Regions from separate parts of the Homo sapiens genome. Here region 2 is linked to region 1. The links come from fine-mapping of genetic effects on gene expression. A gene starts in region 1. The other region holds a variant in brackets. All regions are shown on one strand. Distances are between the middles of the regions. Region 1 holds the start of PARAIL (palmitic acid regulated anti-inflammatory lncRNA). Region 2 overlaps PARAIL (palmitic acid regulated anti-inflammatory lncRNA).

Region 1 (2,728 bases):
ACGTATTTTCACATTAGATATAGGAGGAGGAGAAGAGAATGTTGTAATCATGGATGTTAACTCACTAAGAACTGAATGCTGGGCCTAGTTAAATCCCTGTAGGAAGTAAAATACACAAGACTAGTGACCCATTGACTAATACACAGTCACAGGTCTATGGCACGCGGTTGTAATGTTCTTCTGAAAACAGAAACTAATGCTAACCTTCCCTTAAAACCTGTACAAACCAATAAGTGAAAGCCATTTACAATTTCTGGCCATTTAACAGTCTTTTGGTTCAATTTATTGTGGCAAAAATAGCACACATTTCCTCTACTTAATCTTCCCTGTGAGAGAAACTGAGACTGGGAGAAACTGAACTGCTAGTATTGAGTTTGATATAAAACGTTCCTGACAACACATAATAAACCAAAACCAAAATAAAAACAATAAGAAGCAAAACATCCTTGATTCTAAAGCAGTGCGGTCCAATAAACATATAATGTGAACACCACCACATACAATTTAAAATTTTCTCGTGGCCACATAAAGTAAAAAGAAACACATAAAATGAATTTTAATCTTATATTTAACCCAAGATATCAAAAATGTTATTTCAGCATATAATCAATAAACAAATAATAAAATATTATAAGTTCTTTTTTTAATAAATACTAAGCATTCGAACTCTGGTATTTTACACTTAGGTCACACTTCAATTCGGACGGGCACATTTCAAGTGCTCAATAGCCACCTGTGGCTAAGAGCTACCTACTGGACAGTGCAGCCCTACAGCCCAATTTCAAAAATAAGGAAAAAACAAAGCAAACAAAACCCACACCCACTATATATAAACACACATCAATTTCAGTAAACCCAGCGTTTAGAGTTAGGCAGTGATTGCTGATTTTTGGAGTACGGAGCCAGAACGCCTAGGAGTAAGAGGGAAGGAGAGAAAGGGTAATGGAGAGATGTGTGGAGGAATGCAACTGCTGCATCTCCAGAGAAGCCTGTGCTCCCTACGGTGCCAGAGCTTGAAGGGTGGGTGCTCCCTATCTCCCAAGCTTGAAGGGCTCCCTAGAGGTGACGAGGTGAGGCCGGCCCCAAGCGGTCACTGCCATTTGGGCTCTAGAGCCCGCTTGTCAGGGGGCTTGAGGGGATGCAGGAGTTGAGGGCTCTTCCAGGGAACCCCAGTGACTGCCTACCTGTCGAGCAGCGGAGTGTGGATGTGCAGGTGCTTCACGGCCACCTGGACGCGCCAGTCTGCGTGGCGGGCGGACGACACAGTGCCAGAGGCGCCGCGGCTCAGGTAGCGCAGGTCGGCGAGTTTGTGGTAGGGAATGGTGGGCAGGGCGCTGCAGATGGCCTCCCCGTTCATGGTCCCGGGCGCTCAGGCCGGTTCCGGGTGTGCCCCCTGCTGCGGCGGCTCCCAAGGCTCCCACGCCGCGCTCAGGCGCCCAGATACGCCCCTGCACGAGCGAGGCCGGCAAGACCCTTTTTGCCCCGCAACACTAGGTCACGAGGGCGCCCATTCCCCGGATGGCCCACGCCAGCCGCTGCTTCTCCGAACCAGAGCTGACTTCTTTTCTAGAGACTGGTGCCAACGCCGTAGCGCCGCGAAAGAGCTTCCTCTCTCGCAGCCCCGGCCCTCCCCCCGGCGCGCGCAGCGACCAGCTCCGGCCGCCCGAGCTCCTCCCTCCCCAAACTTCGCAGGTTACGTCAGCGGCGGACGGCAAGGCGGGGAGAGGGGCAGCCCGCTCGCGGCCCTCCCGCCTGGCTCTCGCCTCGGCCTGCGGCCGGGATCCTCCGCCCGGGTCGCGCAGCGGAGGCCGAGGGCTGGGACGGGCGGCTGGGAAGTGGGAAAGGGAGCTCCTTTTGTCTTCTCTTCCCATCCCCCAGGTTTGGGAAAGTTTTCCTTTTGGGAAAGCCCCTCTCTTCAGCCTGCTGGCGGGTGTCGGATTGGTTAGCGACCACCGGCCCCCGCCTCCCCCAACAGGATTCTCCTTTGGGCCACAGGTCTTCCGGAAGTTGCCAAACCCCGGTAGCGGCAGCGTCCGGCTGGGGGCTTTATTAGGGGGCACCGGGGTCTGCTTTCCGACTCCCTTCCGACTCCGCGCCTGCGCAGGAAGCGATTTGGGGAGTGTTGTGAATTCCGAGGGCTCCACACTTAAGAGGTTGTACACTCACCTGTCTACCTGGACTCCAATTTCCATATTTCCAGCCACTTGAGGACTGAGAGGTGGATGATAAACCCTGTCATAGTGGAGCAAGTTCAGGTGTTTAACCGCTGTTATGGGGGATCTGCCTTTTCTCCCTCTTCTTTCTTACTTCCATAAGTATGTATGTGCAGAGATTGAAAAATAACCTTGAGAGAGTCCATCCATCTAACTCCAGGTAAGACTGCAAATATTTCTTTCTTATAAATCTGGGAGGAATGCAGTCAGTGTTTCATGCCAACCAAAAAAGACTGCAAACGTTTTTCCATCCTTCTGCCTTGAATACCTTTCTACTTAGATGACTATTTTGTAAGACGTGAGTGCAAATGTTATATACAATACCAACTCCATACTAGATGTTTAATTAATTCTAGGGATTCAGTAATAAGGAATGACTCGAACAGATTTCTGCCTACAGACAGCTAATGCTTCTTGTATTTTTGCATTACCTGAAATGAAAGTAGCAATGTTAGATTTTACAGTAGTGGGAGGTTGTAAACAATAGTATGTTAAACATTTTTGATCATTTATAA
Region 2 (3,030 bases), 33 kb after region 1:
AAAAATCAGCATAAAACTAGATAATAATAGGATACCTGCTGATCTGTGAGATAAAAACATTCTTTTAAATTGCATGCCAATTTGAAAAGATAAATATTGATGCCAATGTACTGGTGATGAAGTGGGGGCCTGGGGTGTGGGGATGAGACCAGCTGGCAGACATTGGCTAAGCCAGACCCTGGGCTGAGTTGGATTGCATAGGCCTTGTGACTCTATTATTAAACACAGATCCTGAGGGTGAATGACAGCATCTGTGAGATTTTTGAGTCAGTTCTGAAGTAGGTTCTCAGCCAAGTTAGGCAGACATAGAAAAGTAATTATAAAATGCCTAGGCACCAGCCCCACCTAGAGTTGATGCTTAGAATGAGGTAGATAGTAGCAGAAGGAGCAGTTTTTTAAGCCAGTGAGCTTTACAGTGGGGGAAGGGGCAGAATGGGGAAGTCCTTTATTCTGAGCTCTTAAGCATGCCAGGAGCAGATGCCTGATTTTACTGTGTGGCACTTTGTGGCCCAGAAACTTTCCAGATTCTGTATTTTCCTATCTGGTTAAATGTAACTGTATTTACCTGTGTTTCAAAGCCTGAATGCTTTATTTATTCTCTACTTAATTTTCTTTTCCAGTTTTTCCTAACAAGCTTCCCTAGATTTACTTGTTCTCACTTCCTAGACGCTATTTGTATTCTTCCTTCTTCTCTAGTTCATTGGAAATTTCTGCTTCTTTGAGACTGAGGTTATATTCCACTTCTTCTGACTACACCACCACCATCAATCTCCTTCTCTGAACTCTTGGATCATTACTTCAACCTGAAACAACTCATCAGGTATCTATAAAGGTGGTTATTTGAGTTCCTGTTTTTAGGATTCCAAAATGATGCCAAGATATGTAAAATGAAATGTTAATTGCATTTTTTTTGAGGGGGTTAGAACTATGTAAGTCCCAAAAGAGACAAAGAGTTTAGCTCAAAGCTATCAGATGTTGGAATCAGAAGTTTGGCTTAGGTTAATAAAATGTTTTGCTGTTTAATTTACAAAATTTTTCAAGATCAGGTCCCTGGAGGGAAAATAGCAAAAGGAATTCCTGATAGAGAAAAGTTGCAAACCACTAATTGTGTATAGATTTGGTATTTTGTTATGTGTAGTAAAGTGGTTGAGAGTATGATCTTTGAAGTCAGGCAGACCTGGGTTTGCCACTTTCTATCTGTATAACTCTGTACTTTGCATTATCTTTGGGAGTCTTGGTTTCTCACCTAGAAAGTGAGTCAAGGCAAATAATTTACTCAGCACAATGCCTGCCATATAGTAAATGTTCAGTGTTATCATTATTGTTGTTGCATCTTATTTGCTCTTTTTTGTGGTTTATGTCCTGTGTTAGGCAGAATAGTTGCCTACTGCCCCAACCCCACCAAATGTTCCAGCACCTCTGATATTACCTCACATGGCAAGAGGGCTTTGAAGATGTGATTGAGTCAAGGATCTTGAATGGGGAGATTATCCTGAATTATTCAG[C/G]TGGACCCAGTGTAATCACAAAGGTTTTTCAAAGATGGAAGAGAGGCAGAAGAGCCAGAAAAGGATATGTGACAATGGAGTCAGTGTCAGAGTTGGAGTGACGTGATGTGAGAAGGATTCAACCTGCTGTTTCTGGCTTTGAGGATGAAAGAAGGGGCCATGAGCCAAGCAATACAGGTGGCTTCTTTCAAGAAGTTGGAAAAGGTAAGGAAATGGGTTCTCACCTAGAACTGCTGGAAAGCAACCCAGCCCTACTGACACCATGATTTTAGCTCAGTGAGACTCTGTCCAGATTTCTGACCTCTAGAACTATAAGATAATAAATTTGCATTGTTTTAAGCCACTAAGTTTGTGGTAATTTGATAAAGCATCAACAAAAAATGAACACTTCTTCCCAGCAGGACTCCTTTTGAAGACCAGTTCTGTATACATCATCGTATCCAGTGTAAGTACTGGATGTAAATATGGATCAATAATTTGGAATTTACTGAGGTTTCCAGTGGTGAGGCACAATAACTTGTAATTTGCAATTTTTTGTAGTGGAGAAGAGATAACCATGAGTCAGCTCTCTTTCTGCATACACATTTCCATTGCAGCACAAGTTAAAGATACTGGAGAAATTCCCCATCTCACTACCAAGGACAGACCTAACTGACAATAAATTCATCTATAGCCCAGTCAGGGTTTTCCCCTCATTGTCCCTGCCTTCCACAATTGCAGCTAGTTTTCAAAAAGATACATAAAAATAGCTACCATGAATTTAGCACATGGTATGTGCCAGGAGTTATGCTAAATGCTCTGCGTATGTTATCTTACTTAATCCTCCAAAATTTTCCATGGTGGTAAAAATAAATGTTTCTTGTTTTCAAACTTCAGGTCATGACTCTCAGTGGATTTTGAAATCAATTTTGTAGGGAGTGATCAGTAGTTATTAAACAATAAAATAGAATATGAAATATCATTGCATTTCAGGAAGTAAGAGTAGGCATAGCTTCATCAAATTTTGGTTTCAATTATATATATATCTTATCATGTCTATAAAATAAACACATATGTGTATGTACTGGGTTGTGTTACAGAACATATTTCTTACAATGAGTCCTAGTAAAAATTACTTTTTTTTTTTTTTGAGACGGAGTTTTGCTCTTGTTGCCCAGGCTGGAGTGCATTGTGCGATCTCGGCTCACTGCAGCCTCCACCTCCCAGGTTCAAGCGATTCTCCTGCCTCAGCCTCCTGAGTAGCTGGAATTACAGACATGTGCCACCACGCCTAGATAATTTTTTTTTTTTTTTTTTTTGTAGAGACGGGATTTCTCCATGTTGGTCAGGCTGGTCTCGAACTCCTGACCTCAGGTGATCTGCCCACCCCAGCCTCCCAAAGTGCTGGGATTACATGTGTGAGCCACCACACCCAGCCCTTAAAAAATTACTTCTTGGAGTGGGTTGTATTTAAATTTTTTAAAAACCACCAATGAAGTGGTTAAGAATATAGGCTTTAGCAACAGGGCTACCTGAGTTTATTCTC

Evidence for each region. PIP is the estimated chance that this variant, and not a neighbour inherited with it, causes the effect.
Region 2: its variant is fine-mapped to the expression of PARAIL in subcutaneous fat (GTEx, PIP above 0.99). The same link has a PIP of 0.9 or more in breast, fibroblasts and tibial artery.

Annotation. Positions count from the first base shown.
Region 1 is chr8:89,756,690-89,759,417 of GRCh38, reverse strand. PARAIL (palmitic acid regulated anti-inflammatory lncRNA) reads left to right here and starts at 1,707. Exons shown (of 5, transcript NR_125822.1): 1 at 1,707-2,373. It overlaps RIPK2 (receptor interacting serine/threonine kinase 2), which reads right to left and starts at 1,602. Exons shown (of 11, transcript NM_003821.6): 1 at 1,185-1,602. The coding sequence starts at 1,357. RefSeq lists an enhancer at 1,127-1,196 and a silencer at 1,737-1,856.
Region 2 is chr8:89,723,308-89,726,337 of GRCh38, reverse strand. PARAIL (palmitic acid regulated anti-inflammatory lncRNA) reads left to right here. Exons shown (of 5, transcript NR_125822.1): 2 at 697-820; 3 at 1,372-1,709. Among named protein-coding and RNA genes, the nearest start is that of PARAIL, 33 kb to the left of the region's middle. RefSeq lists enhancers at 230-329, 380-429, 460-509, 85-634. The variant C/G (reference allele first, on the strand shown) is at 1,506.